Linked DNA regions of Homo sapiens. The protein of the gene in region 2 purifies or fractionates together with the protein of the main gene of each other region. This does not show direct contact. Each region holds a gene or a part of one and is shown on either strand. Other genes may lie near its edges.

What was found.
Region 1: the proteins of HDHD3 (region 2) and MTHFD2L purify together in Homo sapiens (affinity purification with mass spectrometry; 2 studies listed by BioGRID and IntAct, with this or other methods). This does not show direct contact.

What each region holds. Positions count from the first base shown.
Region 1 is NC_000004.12:74,163,624-74,179,304, reverse strand, and holds part of MTHFD2L (bifunctional methylenetetrahydrofolate dehydrogenase/cyclohydrolase 2, mitochondrial), read right to left. Parts: intron 7,528-15,681; exon of another isoform or gene 5,821-7,527; coding exon of another isoform or gene 5,756-5,820; intron 4,800-5,755; coding exon 4,615-4,799; intron 4,025-4,614; coding exon 3,902-4,024; intron 1-3,901. UniProt on the Homo sapiens protein: Bifunctional mitochondrial folate-interconverting enzyme that has both NAD/NADP-dependent methylenetetrahydrofolate dehydrogenase and methenyltetrahydrofolate cyclohydrolase activities.
Region 2 is NC_000009.12:113,369,079-113,385,207, forward strand, and holds HDHD3 (haloacid dehalogenase-like hydrolase domain-containing protein 3), read right to left. Parts: upstream 7,909-16,129; 5' UTR 7,651-7,908; intron 7,523-7,650; exon of another isoform or gene 6,490-7,522; 5' UTR 6,375-6,489; intron 5,452-6,374; 5' UTR 5,277-5,451; coding exon 4,521-5,276; 3' UTR 4,344-4,520; downstream 1-4,343. Other genes in the region: BSPRY (B box and SPRY domain-containing protein), read left to right, coding at 538-1,064.

The DNA.
Region 1 (15,681 bases), on a different chromosome or scaffold from region 2:
TGGTGGTTACATGTGCTAGGAACTTGTATGTGAATGTTTGAAATATATGTGCTTACGTTATGCCTTACTATGTTCTGAGAGACAGTAAAACGTAACAAGAAGTTTAAAAGGCAGGCTCTGAAATCAGTTGATCTGGGTTTGGGTCTTGGCTCTACCATTTACTAACAGGTAATACTGGTCAATTCACTTAACCTCCCTGTGTCTCAGTCTCTTTAACTATAAAATGAAGAAGTTAATTCTTATCATATAAGGGTGTTTGTAGGATTCAATAAAATAATCCAGGTAAGGGAGTGCCTGCCACATAGTAAGCACACATGACTCACTAGATAACACTGATGTGCCAGTGAGGGTGCTAACATAATCGGTAAGAGTATTCTTGGCATGGGGGCCAGTCTGCCCGGATTCAAATCCCAACTCAGTTACTTAGCAACTCTATGAACTTGGAAGAAGTTACTTACCCTCTTCACGCCTCAAATTTCTCATCAGTAAAAAATATATAATAGCTCCAGCTTCACAGGATTATTGTGAGGATCCAATGGGTTAATAAATACAAAGTGCCATTTGTAATATAAATGGCATACAAAAGTGTCATAATGTAATAAATGTTAGCCACAATTTTGGCATTATTGGCTTTTTGGCTACATAGAAAACTGCCCTTTCTCAGAACATCCAGATTTTTTTTTTTAATCACTGTGGTCACTTTAGCTCTATGCTTCTCACACTCTCTGTTTGAGACACTCAAACAATTTAGTCTCTAGCACAGGACTCAGGCAATTTAGTATTTAATACAGACAAATCACCAGTGCCATCTAGCAGCGAGCTGCTAATAAATTCACCAAATAAGGAATGTTGCTCAAAAGGGGTAAAATTTCTACAGATATAAAATCCAACGTAGTTAGAAATCTGTGACAAACTAAATGTAATGTACTTTGAAAACTATGACTATTTTAATACTTTTAAATTAACAAAGAAAAATTTGTAGATATGTGTGGTGTACAATGTTTTGACATATGTATACATTATGAAACAGCTAAGTCAAGATATGTATTTTTGTGGTGAGAACATTTAAAATCTACTTTCTCAGCAATTTGCAAGTATATAGTATGTTGTTATTAGCTAAGTCACCATGTTGTACAATAGACCTCCACAACTTATTCCTGTCTAACTAAAATTTTGTATCCTTTAACCAACATCTCCACAATCCCCTCTCCAGTCCTCAGTCCCTGGTAACCACCATTAACTCTATGTTTCCATGAGTTTACTTTTAAAAATTCTACAGGTAAGATCATGCAGGTTTTTCTTTTTGTGCCTAGCTCATTCTACTTAGTATAATACACTTCAGGTTCCATGTTATAGCAAATGACAGGATTTCATTCTTTTAAAAAGTTGATTCTTATTTCATAGTGTATATATACAACAACATTTACTTTATCCATTCAGCCACTGATAGACACTAAAGTTGATTATGTATCTTAAAGTAATGCTGCAATGTGCAGCATTACTTTAGGAGTGCAGATATCTCTTTGACATACTGATATCATGACATTTGGATATATATACAGAAATGGAATTTTTTGATCATACGGTATTCTATTTTTAATTTTTTGAGGAACTGTCATGCTGTTTTCTAAAATGACTGTACCAATTTACATTCTAAACAGCAGTGAGCAAGGGTTCCTTTTCTCTACATCCTTGACACTTACCTCATTTTCTTGATAACAGCCATCCTAACAGGTGTGAGGTGATATCTCATTGTGGTTTTAATTTGCCTTTCCCTGATAATTAGTGAAGTTTATCATTTTCATATACCTGTTGGCCATTTGTATGTCTTCTCTTAAGAAATGTCTTTTCAGGTCATTTTGTGTAGAATGGACATTTTAAGAATTAATGTTGTGACATGTTTATACAGTTATTGAAATGTCGTAGAAATGCCAAGTAGAGAAAATTTCAAAAACTGCAAACTATAAGAAGATTGCTTGATAAATACAGTACCAACAGGAGATTCATTGTGAGTGAGTCAAACAATTGAGAAACACTGTTAAAATTTTTTGGACAGATTTGTGATGTTAATAAACTCCTGATCTTCTCTAGATCTCATTTTCCTATGATATAAGAGTGCTGCACGTGTTGAATTTTTTTTCTAGTTTTAAAGGTAAGTGATACTATCACTATACTAACTTTAACATCATTAATGTAAGCATTATCTGCCAGAGCATTTTTCTCAGGGGGAAAACTGATAGCTTCTGAGATTCTTATTAACTTGATGATTTTTGTCAGTGCAGCTATATTGGAGGAAAAGAATTAGAAGTATGAATTTTTGATATAATGTAAACAGCACAAAAGCTATAACATATGCTAAGTAAGATATTACATTATATTGCTGGATAAAGAAAAATATTAATACCACATAAAGATCCCATATAATAGCATTATATAGCTTTACTTTTTGCACATCACGATTGTTAATCAAAGCTTACAGAACTCAAAACTACAAAGCTACTGTAACCTATACTATACCTGCAGTCCTCATTTTGCGCAGTTTAAATATGCACAAATTTCAGAACAACAATTCAGTTAAATAATACTAGTCCTCCAATAACACATTTCAAATTTCATAGTAATTATACAAGAGCTGCTAGCTCTTTAGTCCACAGATCACTACAGAAATAACAGATGAGATGATGATCAGTGACCAGTCATAGCACTTCTTTCAAATGATTGGTCACTGCACATTTACAATCATCAAACATCGATGGCAAAGTGTTGTTTTCTCCATGTTTCCCAGAGATAAACCCACATGATATTTTACAAAAGTGGATAACAGACAGAGGGGATTAGCCTATAAAAGTGAAAGTATAGCAAAGAAACAAAATGTGATAATGCTGGGATGGAAACTGGATGTAAGTAGAAGATCTGAACAACAGCAAACAAAGACAAGAGAAACCTAGGCCCGCATGAAGCGAAGGTAAGTCTTATGTTGAAAAAGCCTGATAAACATAAAAAACAAAGTCATTTCAATAGGAATCTAATTTAATGTAAATGGAGTTGTAGGAGAAATAGCTGACCATAGAATGCTGACACTGAATCCTTTGGAGAGACGTAGTTACGCAGCCAGAGGAACTTAATGAGGGTGAATCCATCACACAAACGAGGAAAGTGATCGTAATAAAAAAGACAACAACATCTCAGATGAAGTGACGCCAATGTGAAACTTCATACTGAAATTCCTTTAAATGTTAAGGAACTCTCAGAGAAATTTCACAACATTGAAAGTAGAATAGACAAAATACTGGGAGCTAATCTAAACTTTGAAAGGAATATAACAGTTCAATTCACCAAGACATAGAAAAGATGCCCATTCCATATGATAAGTTATAGAATTAGACAGAAGACAAACACTGCTCCAACTACTTTTGACGAGCTTTTGCAAAGATATCATACACTTTCTCAATGTTTCTAATGTTTTAAATTAGAGTGTACTAAAAAACATTAGCTTAGTTTTACTAATTATTCATTTCCCTATACATTTATGAACCACAGTAGGAGAGTTTTCAATGCTTGGATAAGAAGTTTTAAAGGCCACAGAAAAATTGTTATTTTTACCTTTGATTATTAAGATCACATTACCTGGTTTCATCTTACATCGTCATTTTTAGAGACCCATACTACTGTGCAAAGCAAGGAGTGTATGTATTGCCAATGCTTATATTTCACTTTCAAGGATTTTGTCCATGTAAGCACAAATCATTCAGAAATCACTATTACACCTATTACTAGTAAAATAGCTAGTCTCCTTCTGAATGTATTTTATAAATTACTTGCAGTATCATAATATGATGTTGAAAGATGCCCTTTGTTTCACTTTTAACAAAATCAGATAAATAAGAGGAGCATTATGTACCTGGTAGTGGTAACTGAACTAATATACCGCTGACTCTTGGGTCCATATTCAATTGATCAGTTACGTCCAAAAGTTCTTCCTGAGAAACATCCTTAGGTTTTAGAATGAGCTCACTACAAATACCTAGAAGAAAAACAGGTAGAGAAGGTCACTTGACTAACTGAATATGGTTTTTCATCAATAGTGTCTGACACAGTGTGGGACTGTTCCTACTGCCGTGAAAGGTTCTGATGTTCCATGCATCATCAGGAAGGATTTCTCCAATAGTACAGGTGTTTCCTCTTGATCCACATGTATTCTTTGGCCTGGAATGCCAGGTGACAATTTGTACTTGTTTGAGATAAGCTACTGTTAGTAGATTTGAAGAGAATAAAAATATCACTACCATGCAACTATTAGGCCAAGTTTAACAGAGTGAACAAGCCAGGTTTATTATTTGATTAAAGCAAATATAATGAAAGCAGGCCTTTTAGATGCAAACTATCCTTTGCATATCTTGCCATAGAATATAAAACACACTGAATTAACCCTATAAGAAATTTGAAGAAAAATCATATGAAATTAACATAAGCTTTGGTAACTGAATAATCTTTAATAATAATACATGCAATTCAAATGGCACTTATTTGATAATTATCATTCATAATTATCACAATTTGAAGTAAAAACAGAAAACATATTTAGTAGTAATTACAACTAAAACACACACCCACCTACAGCAGAGGCAGCTCTTATCTTATTCCTGACATATGTATGGCTTGCTGGGTTATCTCCCACTAAAATTATACTGAGGTGAGGTCTTCTGTTTCCAAGGGAAACCCATGATTCCACACCTCGCTGTATTTCTTTCTGGATATGCTTGGCCATTTCGGTTCCTGATATAATAATGGCTTCATGTCTGTGGAAAGCAAAACAATAAATACTAAAAAGAAAATAAGAAACACTCAACTGCACAAATTTAAGGTACAAAACTCAATAAAACCACCATGATTCTCCAAGCACCCAAAATTTGATTTTTTTTTCAATTATAGTGACACCTACTCTTCAGGTTCATAAATATTTTATAATTTTGTGAAGGATTCCAACTCTGTTATTTAGTTCTACAGTATAATCTATCTGCTATAAAATGAATGTGTATGTCTCTTCAAAATTCCTATGTTGAAATCCTAACCCCAAATGTTATGGTATTAGGAGGTAGGTCCTTTGGGTGGTGATTACACCATGAGGATAGAGCCCTCATAAGTGGTATTAGTGTCCTTTTAAGAAATTCCAGAGATCTCCCTTGTGCCTTCTGCCATGTGAGGACATAGCACGAAGACAGCTATCTATTAACCAAAAAGCAGGCCCACACCAGACACTGAACCTTCTGGTGTACTGACCTTGGACTTCCCAGTCTACAAAACTATAAGAAATTCATTTGTTTTTGTATAAGCCAACCAGTGTACAGTATTCTGTTATAGCAGCTCAAATAGACTAAGATGCTAACGACAGTGTACATTTCTTCACAACTTTCACATACATATATAAAACATATATATTATATACACATATGCATACATATGTATATACATATACACACATTTATGTATTCATATAAATTATCAAACCACATACTCAAGATCTGGACTATAATATTGCCTAAATTTAAAGTTCTGCTATTTTTTCTAAAGAGGCAGATCAATCAGCACAGCCTAGTTAAAACTGGCAACCATCTTGAAGACTGGACTCCACTATGTATACACGTAGCCCCACAATCTTGTGACCCTAAGGCGAAATCAGTTCGTTTTTGGTTAGCATATCCAGCACAAGACTCTGAAGTCATGAGCTTCATACTACACAACTCTTTTAACTTACTCAAAGAAAAATGTTATTCCATGGCCCCAGGCATGGCCCCGGACAACAGCTGTGAGTCTTGCCATGCTTGTCACTGATTATGGTGGGGATCAGGTCAGTAAACCGATAGTTTAGTTCCTTCCCAATGCAATGGCATCATTTCTAATGGAGTAAGTTTCCACAGAAGATTACTTCCTGGCAGTTTATAAGTATTTCAGAAGGTAAGAAGTGCCATAATTTGATAGATGATATAAACTATCTCTGGAAAGGCACAAAGAAATACTTTCTAGAAAGGCTTTTCTGCTCTCCATGACCTCAAACTTGAAAGTGGTGAATTACATTGCTCTTACTGTGTGTTTATTTTTTTAAAGGTATCTGATAAAGTAGAAGGTGGTCCCTTCTTCCTTCTGCCCCTGTCCTTTCATTATTGAATGGCCCGGTAAAAACATGATTACTACAAAAAACATCAAATGTAGGTAAATAAATATTATGAAAAGGAGGAAAAGGGAAAGAGTAAGAAGCAGAAGAGAAAGAGGAGGAGGAAAGGAAGCCCTTATAAACCTTAATTCTTTGTGGTATCTGTACACTTTTAATTTTCTAATGAGGGCGGGTGCTATAAATATCCGACAACACACAAAATGCAAACTTTGTGCTCCTTCCAAATAAGTCAACTGCTCTCTCTAGCAGGTTTGTGGACGTATAGGTAGAACTTGATCGAAAATACACCATTATAGCATGGCACCAGTCTTCCACTGCATTCATCTCAGTTCATGCAATTTTGATGTAAACAATGTTCTGCTAAGAAGCAATTCCAAGCGTGGTCTATGGATACACACATCAAAAACTGCCTGAAATTGCAGATTCCCAGACCCCACAATCCACATCTACAATTCAGAATTCCTGGGGGCAGGGGAAAAACCTGGAAATCTGCATGTCTAATAATTTCCTACATGTGATTCTTGTGTATGACCATGTTTGAAAACCACTTTAGTTTACCATAAAAGTGTATTTTAATAACAATCATAATTTATGAGTAAATAACTGAGCAAATTGGTTAGACAATACAATCACAACTAGACATTCTAAGTAAACTCTACTTTTGATTCTAATTTTGTCTACTCTTCATTAAAATTTTAATAGCTTTCAAGACATGAAATGTCATGATGAATTCAATATAATAATCTTGTTCTGCTGTCTTATTTCTGTAAAAGATTTATTCAGTATAATTGTCATATAATAAACTGGACATATTTAACATGTACAAGTTTAAGTTTTAATATATGTATATACCTGAGAAACCATCACTATAGTCAAGAAAATGAACATGTCTATCATTCCCAAAACTTTCCAGGTGCACCTTTAAAATTTTGCCATTCCACCTGTCTCTGCCAGATTCCACTCCTCAATTCACCATTCCAGGCAACCATTGACCTCTTTTGTTCAGTATATATTGGTTTGTATTATGAATAATTTTATAAAAATTGAATCAAATACTACATACTCTTTTTTGGCCAGCTATTTCCACTCAGCATAATTATTTTTTAATTGATTCACATAGTTGCATGTTTGAATGGTTCATTTCTTTTTTATTGCTGAGTAGTATTACATTGTATGGATATACCAATATTTGTTTATCCATTCGATTGTAATTAATGGATATTCGGGTTCTTTCCAGTTTTTGATCATGACAAATACAGCTGTTACAAACATTTTATAACACATATGCTTTAATATATTTTGTACACATATGCTTTAAAATATTTTTTTTGTGGGGGACAGGGTCTCCATCACCCAGGCTGCAGTTCAGTGGCAAGATCTCGGCTCACTACAACCTCCGCCTCCTGGGTTCAAATGATTCTGATGCCTCAGCCTCCAGAGTAGCTGGAATTACAGACATATGCCACCATGCCTGACTAATTTTTGTATATTTAGTAGAGACGGGGTTTCGCTATGTTGGCCAGGCTGGTCTCGAACTCCTGGCTGCAAGTGATCTGCCCCTCTTGGCCTCCCAAAATGCTGGGACTACAGGTGTGAGCCACCACTCCTGGCCGCTTTAATTTCTTTTGAGCAAATATCTCAAAGGGGAATGGCTAGGTCACATCGTAAGTGTATGTTTAAATACGTTAAAAACTGTTACGTTACAAAAACACTGTACCACTTTGCAACTTTGCATTCCTTCAAACACTATATGAGTTCTGGTTGCTCCATATACTTGTCATCACTTCAGATGGTCAGGTTTTAAAACTGTTGACATTTTAGTGGACATATGGTGGTATGTCACTGTGCTTTAAATTTGCATTCCCTTAACGAATACTGATGTTGAACATCTTTTCATATGCTTATTTGCCATCTGTGATCTTCTTTAGTGAATTAAATAATTAAGTCTTTTGCCCATTGTTTAGTAGGTTGTTTCCTATTTTGAATTTTTTTAATTTTATTATTATTATACTTTAAGTTTTAGGGTACATGTGCACAATGTGCAGGTTTATTACATATGTATACATGTGCCATGTTGGTGTGCTCCACCCATTAACTTGTCATTTAGCATTAGGTATATCTCCTAATGCTATCCCTCCCCCCTCCCCCCACCCCACAACAGTCCCCGAAGTGTGATGTTCCCCTTCCTGTGTGCATGTGTTCTTATTGTTCAATTCCCACCTATGAGTGAGAACATGCAGTGTTTGGTTTTTTGTCCTTGCGATAGTTTGCTGAGAATGATGGTTTCCAGTTTCATCCATGTCCCTACAAAGGACATGAACTCATCATTTTTTATGGCTGCATAGTAGCCCATGGTGTATATGTGCTACATTTTCTTAATCCAGTCTTTCGTTGTTGGACATTTGGGTTTTTTTAAAGTTCTTTGTGTATCCTAGATTCATGTCCTTTATCAGATATGGGGTTTGAAATATTGTCTCCCAGTCTGTGCTTTGCCTTTTTATTCTCATGTTTTTAGAACAGTTCTTAATTTTAATGTACTCCAATTTATTATTTTTTCCTTTTATGGACCATGCTTTTAGTGTTGTATAAAAGAAATCTTTGCCTAATTCAAGGTCACAAAGGTTTTCTCCAGCGTTTTCTTCTAGATGTTTTATGGGCCTAAGTTATACATTCAGTTTATGATTTATGTCTATTTTTAGTTTGGTGAGAATTTGTATGAGGCTACTGCCAAGTGTTTTTTATGTCTATTGAGATGATCATATGTTTTTCTCGAGTGTTAGTCTGTTAATATGGTAACTGATCAATTTTCAAATGTTAAATCAAACTTGCATTCCTGGGATACATCCCAGTTGGTTATTATGTATCTATCCTTTCCAGACTATCATGGATTTCATCTGAAATTTTGTTAAAATTGTTGCATCTACATGCATAAGAGGTGTTTGTAGTTTTCTTTTCTTATAATGTTATCATGTAGCTTTGATACCAGGATGATGCTAGCTTCATAGAATGAGTTAGGAAGAATTCTATCCTCTTCAAATTTCCGGAAGAGTGTGTAAAGAATTGGCATTTTTTTCTCGCTTAAATGTTTGGTAGGATTCACCCATGAAGCTATCTGATTCTGGGGTTTTCTTTCTGGGAAGGTTTAAACCTACAAACTTAAATTCCTTAATATAGAGGGCAATTCAGGTTATCTAATATTTCTTGAGTGATTTTTGTAGCTTGTGCTTTGTACCTTCCAATACTTTGTATGTAATTATAAGCAAATCAAGTTAAAATAAAATAAAACTTTTGAGGTTTTTATTTTTCAAAGTAAAGTAACAAACTTTTTTCACTGTTTCCTATGAATTTCTGGTAAGGATATTTTATGAATTCATTTAAGTAGCCTTTTGGCACTAAGATAACAAGGATCTTTTATATTAGCAAATACTAAGAACTGCAGATACAGCAACAAATTCCAGCACAACTCATTTATAGGTAGTAGCAAATAAAACTTTCCATAAATCAATTTGTGTCAGCAATATTTTCTTGGGGTAGAACACTATTATAGAAGCAGATTCATCTGTTAAAAAAACTAGTAATCACCTAACACAGTAAGGAATATACATTCTATTTTAAAATATAAAAACATCTGAACTCTGTCTTGCATTTTATAGCATGTGAGTAGTGATGCTACTGCTGACACATTATTGATTCACTCACATTAAACAAAATAATTTGTTCACAGGCCACTGTGAAGCTGGCAATCACTGAGTATAATCTAGGCTAATTATGTCCTAGACAGTACAAATCTGCGTGACCTGGAGATTGTCAGAGAAGACCAATAGCATAAACTGATTCCCAGACTCCAAAGAGACAACCTGTATACAGATTAAACTTAACTGTACCGTGCATACTCAAGTCTAAGACTGTTCAGGGTTTACTTTAAATTATAGCACTGAGGTGCTAAGTCAGCTCGCTAACTAATTACAGCAGACATGATACAGCCTGGCTAGCTGGTGTTTATGGGTAAATTAGGAGTTAGGTCTCTGAGCATTTTCAGTAGCAACTGGCCCCTCCAACTGACTCCATCAGTCACCGTAGAGACTCAGCAAGCCTAGCTCTGTAGGAGTCACTGTAAGAGGCAAAATGAAGCAACCTCAAATTAATGCAGGTCCAATGAGAGAGTGCCTGTATTGGTCCATGTGCTGGAAGAACTAGTCAACTCACACATTCTCATTACTTTAGTGCATAAACAAATTAGATTTTTCAACATGAAAATTCTTGAAAAGCTAAAAAGGTTAAACATCAGCAACAATTCAAATGTTCAGCCCCTGAATAATACATCTCCTAAAATTTCTCTCCGGCTTGTCTTGATCTCCTCTAATCCATTTTCCATACTGCAGCCAGAGTGATTGTTTTCTAATTTAATTACAGCACCTCCCTGGTTAAAACTCCCCACCACATGCTCATTGTTTATTCACTTAACAAATATATATTGAAAGTCTCCTATGTGCTGAAAACTATTTTGGGCACTGGGAATATAAATAATAGGGCACAAAACAATTACCTACTTTTATGGAAACTATATTCTAGTTGAAGAAGATATAAGCAAATTGAAAAACAACAAGTATTTAATATGTGTAACATGAGGCAGAGAAAGGACTTATCTGAGGGCCAGAGTTATTTTACATAGGTGGGTTAAGATATCACTTCTCTGATAAATCAGGTGACACGTGGGCAGAAATGAATGAAATGAGTCATGTAGATTTCTGGAAGAAAAGCATTCTAGGCCAAGGGAAGGGAAGAACAAGTATGGAGGCCTTTAGCAAGGAGCATACCTGAAATCTTTGAGGAATAGCAAGAGGCCAATGGTTGCAGTGGAAAGAACAAGTGAACTAGGGTAAGACATGAAGTCAGAGAAGGAATGGGACATCAGATTATATAAGGCCCTGCAGGCCTTTGAAAGGATGTTGGCTTTTACTGTGAGACACGAAGCCATTTAGAGATTTTGACGTGACTTTCACTTTTAAAATAACTGGTGAAAATATGAAGGATAGACTCTATGAGATCAAGGGGAGAAGTGGAGACTCCAGCTAAGAAGCTAGTGTAGTATAACAAACAAGGGATCATGGGGAGTTAGGCAAAGGGGTAGCCATGGAGGTGCTAAGTAGTCTGATTCTGAATCTATTTTGAGAGTGGAACCCTTGGGAGTTACTGAGATTGGGTGTAGGATATGAAAAAAAGAAAAACAGAAGGCAAACATGACTCTAACATTTCTGACCTGAGAAATTGGGGGAAAAAGTTAACTAAAATCCCAATCCCCTATGGGTTACACACTTCTGCATGAGCTACTTTAGCCTCACTGTTAAAGAACACTGTGCTTAGTGAGTCGCGCACTACACACCAGTCATATTTTAATTCATGAACTGCACCATGTTCTCTCCAGATCTTCAGATATAATATTCCCTCTGCCTGAAACACTCTTCCTTCCCTTTCTCACCTCTCCAACCACTTTGCCAAGTCTGTCCCACACATTGCTCAAGTCTCAGCTTATAAAACACTCTTGTGATGTTTTCCCAACCCTGTACCCTGGGAATCTGCTGTGAGCTCCCACAGTACCTGGTTTTTACCCTTTTGTAGTATTTTAAATCACTGATATTGTCTAGTTGTCTACCTGTGTTCTCTGGATAGGCAGCCTGTAGCTCTCCATTTCTTTATGTCAATTATTGTTAATTTTGTTCTTTTTGTGGTGCCAGGTTTCCCTAATGGTTCACAAGCCTGTGGCCTTTCATTGCTGTCTATCGCTTGAAGAAGTAGGCGCCTATTCCAGTCTTTCTAAACTGGCTTCAGCAGGGAAAGCCCTTCACCAGTCAGTGGATCTAGAGATTCTTGATGGGCCATCCGGCATGGCCCATGGGTGGGCTTGCTGCTAAAGCCCTTGGATTAGTTGGCAGGTGATGCCTAGGTCAGCAGGTGGTGGGCCTAATGCTTCAACTCACAGGGGGCTAATCCGGTGCATGGGTCCACTGGGGTGGGCTGTCAACTGGGTATATAGGAGTAGTCCTGGAGCCTTGGTCTGCAAATACAGACCTGAAGCCTAGGTTCATAGGGGCCATCCTGGCACTGGGGTAGGTCTTGAGCCTGAGTCCATGGGGACCAGCCTGGCATTGGAATGGGTCTGGTCCCAAGTCTGTGGGGACTAGGCTTGCCCAGGGTCCTCTGGAATGGCCCTGGTACCTAGATCTGCAGGGGAAGACCTGGTACCTAGAACCATGGGGTTGGGTGCAGAGTTTGGGTCCCTGGGGATAGGCTTGGACCTGAATTAATGGAAGCTGACCTGGTACTGGGGCAGGCTTACAGTGTGGGTCCATGAGTTTCTACCTGATGCCTAAGTCTGCAGAGGCTCAGCTGGAATCTTTGGATGCTGCCCTGGCATTAGTGCAGGCCTAGAGCCTGGGTCTGCAAGGACTGGCCTACAAGCTGTGTCTGTGGGGGCTGGCCTGGCACTGGGATGGGCAACACTTGTTGCATTTTTTTCAAAAGTTGTTGGTCATTATTAATCAACATATTCAACAAACAGACCAAATGGGAGTAGGGACACCTTCAGATTTAAAGTTTTTAGTGAATTGTAATCAGTGAAACCAAAGCTTACAAACAGAAACCTTATCTCTTCAAAAGGAAGGGAAGAAGTAAACTAATTTAAAAAATCATAGCTCAAACAATGCACAAGTAATTTTAATTTCTGTCCTTACAAGAGAAGACACAGAGACACATAAAAAGGGAAGTGAAGACAGAGAGGGAAGACAACCATTTAACAACAGAGGCAAAGACTGGAGTTATGCAGCTGCAAACTCCTTAGGAACACCAAGGACTGCTGGCAATAACCAGAAGCTAGTCGACAGAGTGTGGGCCTACAGATACTTTGATTTCAGACTTCCAGCCTCCTTCCACTGTTTCCAGTGTGAAAACAGATTTCTGCTGTTTCAAGCTAGCTAGTTTGTGGAACTTTGTATACAGCAGAATTAGTAAATAAATACATCTATAATAGCAATTTTAAATAGTTCAATGTCTGAGAATAATCTTCTGATGGAACTCATATTTTTTGTTGAATAAAATTTCCTGGAATAAATTACCATTTTGTAAAACATTGGAATACAATTGAGAAAAACTTTAATTTTCCCCTATCTAAATATGGTAAACTATTTTTAAAATCATACACAAAAACAACTTATTTCTTTTATCTAAATATTTGTCAAAGAAAAGTACTTTGAAAAGATACACCAACATAGCACCTGTGAAAATATTTAGGCTAAAATATCTTCCCATTTCAATGTGCAAAATGTAGAATTAAGACTGTTCCATTTAGCAGTTTATGTGGTGTTTCAGCATCTATAGAGACAGTACCTTTAAAACTAAAATAACCATTGTCTAAAGCAAAGATTCTATTTGCAACTGTTAAGAAAATTGCAGAAAATTTAATTTTAAAATTAAGCACAAGGGCCGGGCCTAGTGGCTCACGCCTGTAATTCCAGCACTTTGAGGGGCCGAGGCGGGTGGATCACGAGGTCAGGAGTTCAAGACCAGCCTGACCAATATGGTGAAACCCCGTCTCTACTAAAAATAGAAAAATTAGCTGGGCGTGGTGGCATGCACCTGTAGTCCCAGCTACTCGGGAGGTTGAGGCAGGAGAATCACTTGAACCCAGGAGGCGGAGGTTGCAGTGAGCCAAGATCACACCATTGCACTCAGCCTGGGTGACAGAGAAAGACTCTGTCTCAAAAAAAATAAACAAAGCATAAGATCTTATTAACTTTTTTCAGAAAATTATCAGGATCAAGGTGTTAAAAGATACAGCTAAGAAACTGATTCAAGCATGTGAATATGCACCAGGAATAATTGTTCATGCTGAATGTTCATGTAATATAAATTTTTATTTTAACACATAAGGATATAAATTATCTTTTAAAATGTTAATTTTGAAAATGGTCTGAAACTATTCTATAAGTTCACTAATATATTTGTAAGCCAATAGATATTCCAAATATATAATTTTCATTACATTCGTGCCCCTTTTTACTCTAAAAAATGTGCTAGTTTGGCCAAAAAAATTACATAGTGACCTTGCCATTAATGCATATCAAAAATAAAATCCATTTGACCCCTTAGATATTGTTTACATGATGTGCCCTGTCATTACTTGCTCAGGTGGTTTCCCACAAAGGCAGAAATGACCTTCCCCTAAAGGCAAGAAAAGGTGCCCTCCCTTCCAAAAGCCCAGCCTACTGCTGGGCTAGCCACGAAATGTGGCTTCATCAGGAGGCAAAAATTAAAGAAGGGAGGTGGTGGCTAGTGAGTAGCAGGGCAGCACTATGTAGTACAAACTACTCACCTGAAATTAGAAGTCCTGAGCATCAGAGCTCTGGGTTACCATTAGTAGCAATAATAAAGTTAGGCAAGTCACTTAGCTTCTCTCAACGGCATGCAATTTCTTCATCTATATAATGGGAATACTCTCTTGTTGACCTTACATTACATAAGAGGATTTGGCTAAAAGTTCATGGGCTGGTTTGCAAAAGTGGCTCTTTCTCTTAGTTTCTGCTAAATTACAGATGGAGACATATTTCGATAACCAGAAACATTATGAGAGCAGAAAGTCTTCAGCACTTAGTGCTGTTTCCATGGGCTTGTTTACTTGTACTTCCAGAAAATAAACTAACCACCTTATCTACGCTTATTAGAATCAAATGATTTATTTAATAAACTAGAGCAAAATAACAAAGGGGGAGGATTATTTCTATGTATCAAAATACTCTTCCACAAAAAAGTAGCTTACCAACAAATAAAACCTAGTCAAGATCAAGAGTTTATTTAATTCGTATACTTGGCAAATCCATATCTTAGTTTCAATCTCATCTTTATTCACGACTTCAACTAGAGCTGCAATGAACCATTTTATCTCTATAATGTTGAAAAAACCTGGCCAGGCATGGTGGCTCACGCCTGTAATCCCAGCACTTTGGGAGGCTGAGGCGGGCGGATCACGAAGTCAGGAGATCAAGACGCATCCTGGCTAACACGGTGAAACCCCGTCCCTACTAAAAATACAAAAAATTAGCCGGGCGTGGTGGCGGGCGCCTGTAGTCCCAGCTACTTGGGAGACTGAGGCAGGAGAATGGCATGAACCCGGGAGGCAGAGTTTGCAGTGAGCCAAGATCGTGCTATTGCACTCCAGCCTGGGTGACAGAGCAAGACTCTGCCTCAAACAAAAAACAAAACAAACAAACAAAAAAAGACGAAAAATCCTAATAGAATGATTAACAATTCCAAGCTCTACCCAGGCCCTAACATACAGTTTAATTGCTTTATATCTTAGGGCATATCTTCGATGTCTTGAGTTTGTACAATAGAAATGAAACCCCCCAAAAACAGGGCAAAATTCCATAGGGAATAAAACCAATCACCAGTATAGGGAGTCTTTTGAAGTGTGTTATTAAAATAAATGAATACCTGCAAGTGTTAAGTTTATGACC
Region 2 (16,129 bases):
ATCAAATGATGCCTGATTTACCAGCAGTTTAGATATTTGCTAGAAATTGCTTATCTCATGCTTCCTAGCTCCCAGAGGCTGTGTTTCTAGGACACGTCCAATCTGGAGGCCACAGATATGACCAAGTAGAAAGAGTATAATCAGTGCTACGTATAGGAACAAAATGTTTTGTCTTCATTTTGCCCCTCCCACCAAGTCAGTGTGTAAACTTGGGCAACTCCCTTTTTCTCTCTGGGCCTTATTTCTATCAGAGTTTACAGTTGAGGGTCTTGACTGATAGTAACTATTGTTATGAAGGCTACAGTTTATAGAGCACTTACATGCTGGGCACTTTACATGTATGATTCTGTTTAATTCTCGTGATCACCCAGTGAGAAGTCCTATTTTGACCCCCGTTTTGCAGACAAGGCTCAGAGAGAGTAAATGGCTTATATGAGGTCACCATGCTAGTGAGTGGTGAGGAACCTTTTGCTACCTGGCAGGACCAGGTTAGGGCAGGGGTGGGCCCTCGGCAACTCTGAGAATTCTTTCTGGCAGGCACAGAGGACATACGGATCGATGAGAGGACAGTCAGCCCCTTCCTGCAATTGTCAGATGATCGAAAGACCCTGACCTTCAGCACCAAGAAGTCAAAGGCCTGTGCAGATGGCCCGGAGCGCTTCGACCACTGGCCCAATGCCCTGGCTGCCACCTCCTTCCAGAATGGGCTCCATGCCTGGATGGTGAATGTCCAGAACAGTTGTGCCTATAAGGTGGGCGTGGCTTCAGGCCACCTGCCCCGCAAGGGTTCTGGCAGTGACTGCCGTCTGGGCCACAATGCCTTCTCCTGGGTCTTCTCTCGCTATGATCAGGAGTTTCGTTTCTCACACAATGGGCAGCACGAGCCCCTGGGGCTGCTGCGGGGCCCAGCCCAGCTGGGTGTAGTGCTGGACTTGCAGGTTCAGGAGCTGCTCTTCTATGAGCCAGCCTCCGGCACAGTGCTCTGTGCCCATCATGTGTCCTTCCCGGGGCCCCTCTTCCCAGTCTTTGCTGTGGCCGATCAGACCATTTCTATCGTCCGCTGACCTCTGGCCACAGGAAGCCAGGTCCACCGCCCACCACCCTTTCAGGCCATGTTTCTACTCAGTGTGCTTTTCCCAAATGATGTGTGTGGTGTTTCTAAGAGAAACAGGGCCCATAACCAGTGGGCAGCTTTAGGAGGGATGGGGATCTGTTTCAGATCTAGGCATAACCTGTAAATCACAGGTGTCCAAACTTTTGGCTTCCCTGGGCCACATTTGAAGAAGAATTTTCTTGGGCCACATAAAATACACTAACGATAGCTGATGAGCTAAAAAAAAAAAAAAAGTCTGTGTATAATTTTTGTGATATCTGCCACCACAGATAAGCAAAAAAGTCCTTGCATTCAAAGGGTTGGAGATTGCTGCTTTGAGTGCTGGGTACCTGTGGGGAACCTACTACTCCCTGGGCCTTAGTCTCCCAAATCCACCATGCATCTGCCCCTCTGAGGGTGTCTTCACTTTGTCTCTGGCATCTAGCATGGTGCCTGGTGCATAGTGAGCATGCAATAAATATTTGGCAGGTGAGTGGATGGATAGATGGATAGGTGAATGTAGGTGGACAGGTGACTGGGTGGATGTTGTGGTCTCTGGAGAAGCACTGCCATTCAGCCTCCTGCTCCAGCTGTTCACATGCAGAAATGCTCTCTTCACAGGCAGAGAAGCCTGTGGCTAAAGTTTCCACATCCCATTAACTCAGTGCTTTTGTCTTTTTCATGACATGGCACATAGAGAAAATATTTTTTTCTAGCACACAAGAGCAACCTGAAAGGCTGCTCCTGGCCAGAGGACTCTGTCCCGGGGGACCGTGTCCTCCCCCATGTCCTGCCTAGGCCCTCAGAGGACCAGGGGATCATGTCTCCAGGTAACCCGACTGTAGCCCCTGCTGGCTGAGCTCCAGCCTGTGCCCACTGATAATAGCAGGGACGGCCTTTTCTCTTAGAGCAGCTGATAAGTTTCCCTACCTGATGGCCCCCTCTGACATAAACTGCACACCTGGGGTGATGGCTTAAAGCCAGAAAGAGCTGAGGGAGTTAAGAGGGCCAACCTTAGGGCACGTGGGCATTATTAAAGGTCTTAAAAGCATTGAAGATTTATTCCATGTTCTTTGTTGATAATTGGGTGTATACTGTACGCTGGCCTGTCTTCATACCCTTATTGCATTCTCGGAAATAAGTGGGTCGCAGCTCAGTGTAGCGGAAAGAGCCTGGAGACATTACCAAGACCCAAGGCAAGTCCCTTTATGTTTGTCTCCATGAGGAGTTCACCCTAGAACAGTGGTCTTCAAACTTTTGTCCAGGAACTCTCTTCAAAAGTAATCTTACCTACAACTTTAGGCTCCTGCGTCCAAAGAAGATGAAAGGCAGAGCCCTCCCCACTTTCTTTGGGAGCTGCAGAGCAGTTTGAAAACCACTGTTTATTAATTTTTTTTTTGAGACAGAGTCTCAAAGGGATGCTGAGGCAGGTGGATCACCTGAGGTCAGGAGTTTGAGACCAGCCTGGCCAATGTGGTGAAACCCCATCTCTACTAAAAATACAAAAAATTAGCTGGGCATAATGGTGCACACCTGTGATCTCAGCCACTCGGGATACTGAGGCAGGAGAATTGCTTGAACCTGGGAGGCGGAGGTTGCAGTGAGCCGAGATCGCAACACTGCACTCTAGCCTGGGCAACAGAGCGAGACTCCATCTCAAAAAAAAAAAAAACAACGAAATTACTGTTGCCTGGCCTTGGTGCCAGTCCCAAGGAAAACAGACCAAAAGGGGTTTGGTCAAGTCCCAAAGAGATCTTCCCTGCCTTTGCCTGGGCACAGCCCCTGCTCAAAAATCTGGGTCAAAGCCAAGGCTTTTCTTGGCACCTGAAGGCCCCCATGCCATTTTCTCCCAATCCACCAACCCAGCTCCTCACAGCAGCCTTCATTCCACAGTTCATCGGCCTGCTGCAGCAATGTCCTCCTCATCCCCCTGCTCATCTAAAGCCACCCCCAATGCCACTACTGAATTCAGCATCCATTCTAGAGCCCTCCCTAGCTGCTGGCACCAGAACACACTGCCAGCCTGTGTTTTTAATGTGTGGTATCCTCTGGCACTGGGCAAGGAACACAGATGTCCAGCAAATACCAAGTAGAACGGTGTGGGAAGGTGGGGAGGCAGGAGAACTTTTTGTTGTTTTGTTTTTAGAGACAGGGTTTCACTCTGTTGCCCAGGCTGAAGTGCAGTGGCACGTAGCTTACTGTAACAGAACTTGTGGGCTCAAGCGATCCTCCTGCCTCAGTCTTCCGAGTGGCTGGGATTAAATGTGTGTGCCAGCACACCAGGCTAGTTTTTACATTTTTTGAAGAGATGGGGTTTCACCATGTTGCCCAGGCTAGTCTCGAACTCTGGGCTCAAGTGATCCTCCTGCCTCAGCCTCCTAAAGTGAAAAAAGGAATTGAAAAACCCAACCTACTTCAACCTCCAGTTCTTCCCCCCTCCCTCCAAACCTATTCCCTACACTGCAGTCCTTGTTCCCCATACTTTCCTACCTCCACACTGGTCTCTGCGACTGGGGTGCCCTTTGAGATTGATATTCTTTAGGACACCTCCCCTATTCTCCCAGAATCTCCACTGTACCACGTTTCACATGACAAGCATCCTCATCTACTTACAACCTAGTGGTCAAGCCAATGGGCTTTGGATTCAGATGTGCCTAAATGGAATCCTGGTGTCTTTGCATGCTAGCTGTGACCTCGGGCAGGCTGCTTAACCTCTGAATTTCAGTTTCCTCATTTGTAAAGTTGTGGAGGGGGTCAAACCACCTAGGCCCAACGAGGTAGCTTTGAGGGTTATATGTGCATGGAGGTAACTCAGCACCTTACCTAACACGGGGCAGGCATATGTCAACAGGATTTCTTCTCATGACTGTCATGGGGTTCCTTGTTTAAATTCTCCCCTTCATACTATGTGGTGCTAATGGACAGTGTCCCTACAGAATGGCTTAGCATCCTGCTTTTCAAACTAAGCACTGACCCCAGGCTTCCAGAGGGTATTTTCAGAAGCTGAAAGAGAGACCTTAGCACCTCTGCTTCAACTCCAGCAGTTTTTCAGGGTCTGTTTTTAGTTTTGCATAATGGGGTTTCAGATCGCCCATAACTAAAGGACTCTGCTGCTAAAACCAAGTTTGAAAGTGCCTGGTTTTGAAGCTAGTGGGGCCCTCTGTGAATCCTTTGGATGTGAAGTCGACTCCTAGTGGAAAAGGGACACAGGTGTGAATGAGAATGAGGGAGGGCAGAGGCTAGGAGCTGGTTAGTGGGGGAAGGGTGAGAGCTCAGCACTCACTGCTTTATTATCACAGTAGGTGACAAAGGCCGCAGGGAGAGGGGGAAAGGTCCAGAGCTGTGGAGAAAGAAGGGGCTCCCTGTCTCCAGGGTTTGTTTAAGGTTTTCTCCATGGCCTAGGGCCCAGCCACTTCCCTCACTGGCCTCAAAGCCCTGGAGTTGAGCCCTCTAGGCAGTCAAGGGCAGGCAGGAGATGGGCCAGAGAGGGGAGGATGTGTTCTTTAGGTACAGAATCCCTGACCACGGGGTCCAGTGCCTGTGGGCCAACCACCAGGAAGCTGTGCATGCCCACAGCCCGAGGCCCCTGGTAATCGCAGAGGTAATTATCCCCAACATGGGCTGCCACTACTGGTTCCATATGAGCAAGCCGCAAGGCCTCCTGGAAAATGCGGGGGTCCGGCTTGGGCCAGCCAGCAGCCTCGGAGGTCAGCACAAAGTCGAAGTGTTCACGCAGGCCAAGGCCCCCCAGGATGCCCTCTAGCCGTCGGTCAAAGTTGGAGATCACTGCCAGTCTCAGACCCCGTGTGCGGCACTCCCTCAGGGTGTCCTCAGCCCCATCCAACACCTGCCAGGTGCAGGGGTGGCTGAAGTCTTTATAAAGCTGTTCAGCGATGGGGGCTACAGCCTGAGCATCCTGGACACCCGCCAGGTGGAAGGTCTGCAGGACCACATCCAGCCACCACTGGCGGGAGGTTAGGCCGTGGCTCAGGCCGTAGTTGGGGAAGCTGTGGCTCTGAGCCCTGTATGCCTGCCTGAAGCCTTGTTCCAGGGCTGAGGGCTCCACCTCCAGCCCATGGGCCCGGGCCTTGGTGGCATAGGCCTCCCCTAAGGGGTGGCGGAGCCTGAGCAGCGTGTCCTTCACATCCCACGTCAGCAGTCGTATCTGCAGCCGGTGTGCCATGGAGGAGGCCAAGTCCACCCCAGTTCTGCCTCAGGTCCCACGGTGGGTCCCAGGGGAAGCTGAGCTGGATAAGACCACCTCTGCGCAACCTAACAATCACCTCTTTCCAGGCCTTGTGGGTCAGATTTGCTGGCTAACATGAAGCACTTGGGAAATGTCTTCACAGCACAAGATCCTAGAATGAAAAATAGCAGGTAAGGTGGAAGCTCAGGCCCTGACATCAGACAGACTGGGTTCAAATTCTGGTGCTGCCAATGGTGTGACCCTAGGAAAGTCACTCTGAATCCACAACAAATTTCTGAGCACCTTTTTGAGCTAGCTGCTAGCATATGGGATAGATTTCCAGCCCTTAGGGCATTTACAGGCACTGAAGAACAGGGATACGGATATTAGGCAAAGAACTATACAAACACTTAAATATAATGAAGTCAATAGATACCGTAAGGATCTAAATCCAGGGACCGCATCTAGTCTGTGTAGTTAGGGAATGTCATAAGCAAGTGAAGTTTCTTTTTATTTATTTTTTTTAATTTTTTTGTGAGACAGGGTCTCTCTCTGTCTCCCAGGCTGGAGTGCATGGCTCATTGCAGCCTCGATCTCCCAGGCTCAGTCAATCCTCCTGCTTTAGCCTCCCTAGTAGCTGGGGCTACAGGCACGTGCCACCATGCCCGGCTAATTTTTGAACTTTTTGTAGAGATGTGGGGTGGTGGGGCGGGGTGGGTCTCACTATGTTGCCCAGGCTGCTCTCCAACCCCTGGACTCAAGTGATCCCCCAGCCTTGGCCACCCAAAGTACTGGGATTACAGGCATGAGCCATCACTCCCAGCCCTGCAAGTCAAGTTTCAATGGAGATCAGAAGAATGAATGTGCAAGAAGCAGAGGTAGGTGAGTGCTCCCGTCAGTGGAAATAGCAAGTGCAAAGGCCCTGAGGCAGGGCAAGTAGACAGAGGCCAGCTGTCTGGCACACAGGACACAATTATTATGATTGCTATTATCATTATTAGGGATGTCAAAGACAGAAGGGGCCTTGCAGAGCATATGAACGATATCTTGGCTGCTGGGCAGAGTAGACTGAGCCAGAAAGGGGCAGGTACTTACCCAAGGTCACAGTGAGTCAGTGGCACAGCCAGGACCAGAACCCAAACTTCCAGACTCTCTGGCCAGTTCTTCCACTGTACCATGAGATATATTTGGATTTTAAAAATTGGTGAACCTGTACAGCACAGGAGAAAAGACAGGACACAGCAGGCTGTCTGTCTCTAGCCCTCTCTGAACCCCAACTTTTCCATCTTTACTGGAGGTAATAACACTGGCCTAGGAGGAGAGCTGATGAGAGAACTGACTCAAGGCACAAGAAACAAGTGACTCAGCCTGCTATCCAGAGGCTGGTGCAGCTTCTTTCCCCAGACAGAGCTGATCCCAGACAAGGCCGTCCCCTTGAAACCTGAGGGGCCAGAGTTCAAAGTACGGCTAAGTTGATACTTAGGGAAGGGCGTCACTGGTAAATCTGGGGGAGCCTTGGAGGAAGTTTGTCCAGGAAATGAATTAAGGAGACTCATCCAAAGATCCTCTCATTTTGCAGGTGGGTAGACAGAGACCCAGTGAGGGGCAGTAATTTACCCCCAAATCACACAGGGAGTCACATTGGCACAGCTAAGACTAGAGCAGAGGGCTCTGGCTCCTGACCCACGGCTTTTTTTTTTTTTTTTTTTTTTTTTTGAGGCGGAGTTTCGTTCTTGTTGCCCAGGCTGAAGTGCAATGGCGCGATCTCGGCTCACTGCAACCTCCGCCTCCCAGGTTCAAGCGATTCTCCTGCCTCAGCCTCCCAAGTAGCTGGGATTACAGGCATGCGCCACCATCCCCGGCTCCTTTTTTTTTTGTATTTTTAGTAGAGACGGGGTTTCTCCATGTTGGCCAGGCTGGTCTCGAACTCCCGACCTCAGCCTCCCAAAGTGTTAGGATTACAGGCGTGAGCCACTATACCCGGCCGGCTTTTTTTCTTTTTTTTTTTTTTTGAGACAGAGTCTCACTCTGTCACCCAGGTGTACAGTGGTGCGATCTCGGCTCACTGCAACTTCCGCCTCCCGGATTCAAGCGATTCTCCTTCCTTAGCCTCCAGAGTAGCTGGGACTACAGGCGCGCGCCACCACACCTGGCTAATTTTTGTATTTTTAGTGGAGACGGGGTTTCAACTATGTTAGCCAGGCTGGTCTCGAACTCCCGAACTCGTGATCCTCCCCCGCCCCACCCCGCCCCCCGGCCTCCCAAAGTGCTGGGATTACGGTAAAGGCGTGAGCCACCGCGCCCGGCAGGGCTTTTTCGATTTCTAAAACCGCGGGTTTGGGGCTCTGCGCTGCAGGCACGAACTGCTCACCTTTTCTCCCCACCTCCAGGGCTCGGGAAAGGCGAAGTCCAGGAGCCCGGACCTGACGCAGAATGTCTATAGCTGCCGTCGGCAGCGTGAGCTGGGGCGGCGGTCCTAGGGGCCTTGGCCGCGGCCGACCCCTTGGGTCCCCTTCTCAGCTGTAGGGCGTCCACGGCTCCGGGCCGGTTCCTGGGCCCAGGACCCACCTGACTCACAAGGAAGCAGATTGAAAACGCAGCCGCAAGGCCCGCGAGCTCGGGCGGAGGTGCGCAAGCGCCGGGCGGTGGGGCGGGGATCGCGCGGGCCGCCCCTCCCTACCATCCCGACCCGCCTCTGTCCCCGCCCCGTCCCCGCCCTTATCCCCCTCACCTTCGCCCTCTCCCGCCCCATCTCCCGTCGCCCTCGCCGTCCCCTCTCCCTCCTTCGTCTCACTGTGCACCTCTCTGCGCCCCTGTCACCCGCCTTCACTGCGCGCCTCCGTTACCCTGCACCATCTACGCCCCTTATTCCCTCCCCGCACCCTCTGAGGTTCCCCAGCCCGCACCCTTCCGCTCCGCAGCCCCCGTTACCAGCACCTTCTCCGCCCTGTCTGCGCACCCCCTGCCCGCCACACCGCCGCTCCTCACCGCTGTCTCCGCTCCCCATCCCCAACCCCGGCTCCTGGCCTCCTTTGGATCGGGAAACCCCCGAGAAGTACCCAGGTTGAGTGGGAGGAGGGGAGTTGGGACCCAGCCTGGCTTGCTTAGTGTTGTGTGAACCTGGGCAAGGCCCAGCCCCTCTCTGGTCTCAGGGTCCCCAGTTGGTATTGGAGGGAATTGCTTTCAGTTGGAAACTTGTTAAATCCAAGATAACTTGGTGAGGGTAGAGTCCGCTGCAGTAACCTGCTTTTTTATTCTTTCTCTTTTTTTTTTTTTGAGACGGAGTCTCCCTCTGTCGCTCAGGCTGGAGTGCAGTGGCGCGATAGCCCACTGCAACCCCCGCCTCCCAGTTTCTTGCGATTCTCCTGCCTCAGACTCCCCAGTAGCTGGGATTACAGGTGTGTGCCACCACACCCAACTAATTTTTGTATTTTTAGTAGAGACAGGGTTTCGCCGTGTTGGCCTGGCTAGTCTTGAACTCCTGACCTCAGGTGATCCGCCCACCTCAGCCTCCCAAAGTGCTGGGATTACAGGCATGAGCCACCGCACCTGGCCTCTTTTTGTTTTTAAGAACCCTGTGGTACCATCCTGGCTAACACGGTGAAACCCTGTCTCTGCTAAAAATACAAAAAATTAGCCGGGCATGGTGGCAGGTGCCTGTAGTCCCAGCTACTCGGGAGGCTGAGGCAGGAGAATGGCATGAACCCGGGAGGCGGAGCTTACAGTGAGCCAAGATTCTGCCACTGCACAATATTTGCCTGGGCAAAGAGCGAGACTGTGTCCCCAAAAAAAAAAAAAAAAAAAAAGATCCCTGTGGTAAGAGCCTGGAATCCTAACCACTAGACCACCAGGGAGCTTTTTTATTCTTTTGAAGAATAAAAAAAGAGTTTTATCTTTGTTTGCAAAAGTAATGTATGTTGGCTGGGCGCGGTGGCTCACGCCTGTAATGCCAGCACTTTGGGAGGCTGAGGTGGGTGGATCACCTGAGGTCAGGAGTTCAAGACTAGCCTGGCCAACACGGTGAAACCCCGTCTCTACTAAAAATACAAAATTAGGCGAGGTGGTTCATGCCTGTATTCCCAGCTACTTGGGAGGCTGAGGAAGGAGAATCGCTTGAACCGGGGAGGTGGAGGTTGCAGTGAGCCAAGATCAGGCTACTGTATTCCAGCCTGGGTAACAAGAGCAAAACTCCATCTCAAAAAAATAAAAAAATAAAAAAATAATAAATAAATAAGGTATGCATGTAATGCATGTTAGTCTCAAAAAACTAAAAAATACAAACATATGAGAGTTGGCCATGCAGAGGGGAAGGATCTGAGTGATGGTTAAGGGACCCCCTGATGCAAAGGCCTCCAGGCAAGAAAGTTTTTTTTCCGAACCAAAGAGACACTGAGGAACTATAGGAATGTTGCTAGCCAGGGGGTTTGGGCCAAAGAGGCTGGGGAGGTACCGGAGGGGAAGCTTTGAGATACTTCTGTGCCTGTGCTCTGTTCCTCTTTAGTCTCATCACCTTGCACTATGACCTTAGGCAAGACAGGTCATAAGACAGCCCCCACCACCCAGGCCCCTTTGAGAGGGTCTTGCCGCATACCCTGGAGGAAGGAACACTGCACAGAGAGGCCAAGAAGAATCTACACAGATGGGTCTTGGTGGGTTTCTCTATTCAGTCTATTAGCGTTTTGTGCAATCCTGTTTCTACATGTGAAGGGGTGGCCTGCCCCTCCACACCTGTGGGTATTTCTCATCAGGTGGGACGAGAGACTGAGAAAAGAAATAAGACACCGAGACAAAGTATGGAGAAAGAACAGTGGGCCCAGGAGACCGGCGCTCAGCATACGGAGGACCTGCTCTGGCACTGGTCTCTGAGTTCCCTCAGTATTTATTGATTACTATTTTCACTATCTCAGCAAGAAGAATGCGATAGGAGAGCGGGCTGATAGTGAGGAGAAGGTCAGCAAGAAAACATGTGAGCAAAGGAATCTGAGTCACAAATAAGTTCAAGGGAAGGTACTATGCCTGGATGTGCACACAGGCCAGATTTATGCTTCTCTCCACCCAAACATCTCAGTGGAGAAAAGAATAACAAAGCAGCATTGCTGCCAACATGTCTCGCCTCCCGCCACGGCGCGGTTTTTCTCCTGTCTCAGAATTGAACAAATGTATAATCGGGTTTTATACCGAGACGTTCAGTTTCAGGGGCAGGCAGGAGACAGAGGCCTTCCTCTTATCTCAACTTCAAGAGGCCTTCCTCTTTTACTAATCCTCCTCAGCACAGACCCCTCGCGGGTGTCGGGCTGGGGGACGGTCAGGTCTTTCCCATCCCACGAGGCCATATCTCAGGCTGTCACATGGGGAGAAACCTTGGACAATACCAGGCTTTCCAGGGCAGAGGTCCCTGCGGCTTTCCGCAGTGTATTGTGCCCCTGGTTTATCGAGAATGGAGAATGGCGATGACTTTTACCAAGCATACTGCCTGTAAACATTTTGTTAACAAGGCACATCCTGCACAGCCCTAGATCCCTTAAACCTTGATTCCATACAACACATGTTTCTGTGAGCTCAAGGTTGGGGCAAAGTTACAGATTAACAGCATCTCAGGGCAAAGCAATTGTTCAGGGTACAGGTCAAAATGGAGTTTCTTATGTCTCCCTTTTCTACATGGACACAATAACAGTCTGATCTCTCTTTTCCCTACATACACGGCCATGTACACTTCGTTGAACCTAAGCATAAAAATGGACAGTTTCCTCTGTATCTGTGGCTCTTCATTCTGAAGGCTCCCATGTCACAAAAAAACTATGATCAAATAAATGTATATGCTTTTTCTCCTATTAAAAAAAATACAGACATATTCAGGGTTAGGCATAGTGGCTCATGCCTGAAATCCTAGCACTTTGGAAGGCTAAGGTGGAAGGATCCCTTGAGCTCAGGGGTATGAGACCAGCCTAGGAAACAAAGTGAGACCCCATCTTGTTAAAAAATAATAACAGGCTGGGTGTGGTGGCTCACGTCTGTAATTGCAGCACTTTAGGAGGCCGAGACCAGTGGATTACTTGAGGTCAGGAGTTTGAGACCAGCCTGACCAACATGGTGAAACCCCATCTCTACTAAAAATACAAAAATTAGTGGGGCATGGTGGCAGGTGCCTGTAATCCCAGCTACTCGGGAGGCTGAGGCACAAGAATTGTTTGAACCTGGGAGGCAGAGGTTGTAGTGAGCTGACATCACAGCATTGCACTCCAGCCTGGGTGACAGAGCAAGACTCTGTCTCAAAAAATAATAATAATAATGCAAAATACAAACGTGTACAAAATAAAAAGCCAGCCCCCCACCAACACCCAACCTCATTCATTGACCACCTAACATCTGTGGGCTCTGTGTCCCCTGTCCTTCTCTGAGGATTCAGTGGGAAACAAGGTGGTTCCTGCCTGCATGGGGCATGGGAGGGGCAGACAACCATTGAGTAGATAAATAAACAAAGTGATTTCAGAGAGAGAAGTGGAAGCGGTAAAAACAATCATTTTATGAACAGTGACAGGGTATCTCTTTGGATGAGGTGGTCAAGGAAGGAACAAAGATCTGAATGGTGAGAAGGAGGTTGTCAGGTTAAGATCAAGGAAAGTACTCCAGGTGAGGAACCGGAAAGAAGGGTGTGGGGCCTCAGCCTGCTTACTGAACAAGGGCAGTAGCCTTGGGGCAGGGAGAGAAGGGCTTCCCCACCCCATCTCACTCCCCAGGGATTGCTGAGGTGACAGTTTTGGTTATGCTATGACACAGTTTTCTAGCAGCACACAAACATGTATCTAATTTTCTTTCTTTCCTCTCTTTCTTTCTTTCTCTTCCTCCTTCCCTCCTTTCTTTCTTTTTTTTTCATTCTTTCTCTCTGTCTCCCTCCCTCTTTTCTCTCTCTCCTTTCTTTCTCTCCCTCCCTCCCTCTTCTCTCTCTCTCTTTCTCTCTCTCTCTCCTTCCTTCCTTTCTCCCTCCCTCCTCCCTTCCCTTCCCTTTCTTTCTTTCCTTTCTTCTTCCCTCCCTCCCTTCCTCCCTTCCTTCCTCCCTCCCTCCCTCCCTCTCTCTCTCCCTCCCTCTCTCTCTGTCTCTTTCTCTCTTTCTTCCATTTTTGAGACGGAGTTTCACTCTTGTTGCCCAGGCTGGAGTGCAATGGTGCCATCTCAGCTCACTGCAACCTCCACCTCCTGGGTTCCAGCGATTCTTCTGCCTCAGCCTCCCGAGTAGCTGGGATTACAGGTGCCTGCCACCACGCCCAGATAATTTGTGTATTTTAGTAGAGACAGGATTTCATCATGTTGGCCAGGCTGGTCTTGAACTCCTGACCTCAGGTGATCCACCTGCCTCAGCCTCCCGAAGTGCTGGGATTACAGGCATGAGCCACCGAGCCTGGCCCTTTTTTTTTTTTTTTTTTTTTGTGAGACAGAGTCTTACTCTGTCACCCAGGCTGGAGTGCAGTGATGCGATCTGGGGTCACTGCAACCTCTGCCTTCCAGGTTCAAGCAATTCTCCTGCCTCAGCCTCCTGAGTAGCTGGGATTACAGGTGTGCGCCACTGTGCCCGGGTAATTTTTTGTATTTTTAGTAGAGACGAGGTTTCGCCGTGTAGCCAGACTGGTCTAGAACTCCTGACCTCAACTGATCCACCCACCTTGGCCTCCCAAAGTGCCGGGATTATAGGCATGAGCCACTGTGCCTGGCCTAATTTTCTTCCTTTCAACTCTTAAAAACAAAAAAACAAAACTTTCTCCTATGTTCCAAGTTGGTCTGTTCACTGGGTTCAGGCCTGGGAAGAAACACAAAGTGCAGAGTCACAGACTTTGGACCTGCAAGAGAGAGCCCGACTCACTTGCAAAACTGGTTTTGTGTTATAAGCATGAAGCAGAAGTGGGGGTGGGAAGGGCAACTGGGAGACCAGAGGTTCAACTGCATTTCACAGAATCCAAGAATGTCTGATACTGTCTACTTTTCAGGGTCACCGAAAACCTAACCCCTTAGGTTCTGATCCCAGCTCTGCCATCTGTCTGTCTGTGAGCTCTCCATTCAATTGTTTTTCTCTCTGAGCCTCAGTATCCCAATATGCAAAATGTGAATTTTCCCAAAGTGAACATACCCATGCAACCAGCACCCAGACCAAGAAAAAGAACAATTTCCAGAACCCTCCACAGCCTGTCCACTTCCAGTTACTTACTACCCAAAAGGGTAACTATCTTGACTTCAAACTGCATAGTTAAACTTTATTTGTTTTTGAACTGTATATAAACAGAATAATATAGCATGTATTTTTTATGCCTTGCTTCTTTTGCTCAAAATTGTGTTTGATACATCTGTGTTGCTATGTGTAGTTGTAGTTAATCCATTCTCACACCTTTAATATTCTATTATATAAATAGACCACATTTTACTGTTGATGAACATTTGGGTTATCTCCAATTTTGTTTATTACACTTCTTTTTTCTTTTTTTTGGAGACAGAGTCTCGCTCTGTTGCCTAGGTTGGAGTGCAGTGGCGCCATCTTGGCTCACTGCAACCTCCCACCTCCCAGGTTCAAGCAATTCTCCTGCCTCAGCCTCTCAAGTAGCTGGGATCACAGGTGCCTGCCACCACGCCCGGATAATTTGTGTATTTTAGTAGAGATGGGATTTCATCATGTTGGCCAGGCTGGTCTTGAACTCCTAAGCTCAGGTGATCCACCCACCTCAGCCTCCCAAAGTGCTGAGATTACAGGCATGAGCCACCATGCCCGGCCTTATTACATATATTATAAAATGCTGCTATGAATGCTGTTGAACATGTGTCTTATGAACATAGGTAATGTTGGGTAAATACTGTTGGGTAATACCTAGGTGTGGAATCACAGGGTCATAAGGTATGCATATGTTCAGCTTTGGTAAATAGGGCCAGACATTTCTTTTTCTTTTTTTTTTTTTTTTGCAGACAGGATCTCCCTCTGTAGCCCAGGCCGGAGTGCAGGCCAAACATGGCTCACTGCAGCATCCACCTCCTGGACTCAGGCAATCCTCCTGCCTCAGCCTCCCAAGTAGCGGGAACCACAGACATGTGTCACCACGCCCCGCTAATTTTATTTTTGTTTTTATTTTTTAGTATAGACATGGTCTCACTATGTTGCCCAGGCTGGAGCTAGACATTTTGTTTTCTTTCTTTCTTTCTTTCTTTCTTTTTTTTTTGTTCTTGTGGAGCCAGGCATTTTGAAAGGGTGTACCAGTCATATCTGAGAGTTCCAGTTGTTCTGCATTCTCAACACTTGACATTGTCCCATTGTCCTTTTAGTATTAGGCATTTTCTTTTTCGAGTCTCCCTCTGTTGCCCAGGCTGGAACGCAGTGGCACGATCTCAGCTAACTACAACCTCCGCCTTCTGGGTTCAAGCAATTCTCCTGCCTCAACCTCCCGAGTAGCTGGGATTACAAGCGCACACCACCACACCTGACTATTTTTGTGTGTGTGTGTTTTTAGTAGAGACGGGGTTTCACCATGTTGGCCAGGCTGGTCTCAAACTCCTGACCTCGTGATCCGCCCACCTCGGCCTCCCAACGTGCTGGGATTACAGGCATGAGCCACCGCACCCAGCCAGTATTAGGCATTTTTGTGGATGTATTGTGGTATCTCATTGCGGTTTTAACTTGAATTTTCTCCACTAATGAAGATAACACCTTTTCATATATGTATTGGTTAAGTTTTCATTTTTTATTTACATAGCCACACATGAATATATCCTTGTTACATATAATACATGAATAGAAATAATACATATAAAGCTAAAGTCCCTCTAAAACGAATCCCTTCACTAGTTTTATTTTTAATTGAAAAACATTTTTTTTGTAGCAATGGGGTCGTGCTTTGTTGCCCAGGCTGGTCTTGAACTCCTGGTTTCAAGCAATCCTGCCACCTCGGCCTCCTAAAGTGCTGGGATTACAGGTGTGAGCCACCATGCCCAGCCCCTTCCCGAGTTTTGAGCACTGGGCTTGGAGTTAAGAGACCTGAATTCCAGCCTTGGTCTGCCACTGACTAGATTGCTGTCTAATTTTGGACAGGTCACCTCTCTGGGTCTGTCTCCCCATCTATAAAATCAGAGTGTTTAACTAGATAGTCTCTAAGGATCTTTTTTCTTTAATATTCTGACCACTGTTTCTGTGATCCCAAGAACCTCCATTAGGTAAAAATGGCCATTTGCCTTACTATCCATTCTCTCCATCTTCCTTAGTAACTGAACTCCCGAGTTTTAGTTGAGCATATGGCTGGCCCACTAGACTATTTCCAGCCTCCCTTACAACTGGGCATGACCATGTGACTAATTTGAGACAAGGGTGTGTAGACAGAAATGATGTGTGCAACTTTTGGGTCATGACTTTATAAAGAAGGGTCATGCCCTCCATTTGCTCTTCTCTTCCTGCTGGCTGGAAAGAGGACCTGATGATGGGAACTGGCCCAGCCATTTTTTTGTTTTGTTTTGGTTTTGAGATAGGGTCTCACGCTGTTTCCCATGCTAGAGTGCAGGGGCGCAATCACCACTCACTGCATCCTTGACCTCCTGGGCTCGCTCCTGCCTCAGCCTCCTGAGTAACTGGGACTACAGGCATGCACGACCACACCCAGATAATTCTGTATTTTTTGTACAGACGTGGTTTCCTCATGTTGCCTAAGCTAGTCTCAAACTCCTGGACTTGAGTGATCCACCCATCTCAGCCTCCCAAAGTGTTGGGATTACAGGTGTGAGCCACTGTGCCCAGCACCAGCCATCTTTGTTCATGAGATGGAGGCCAAGATGTGTTGATGATGACAGAACAAGGCAAGAGCTGAGACCCCTCACAACATATTGCTGAC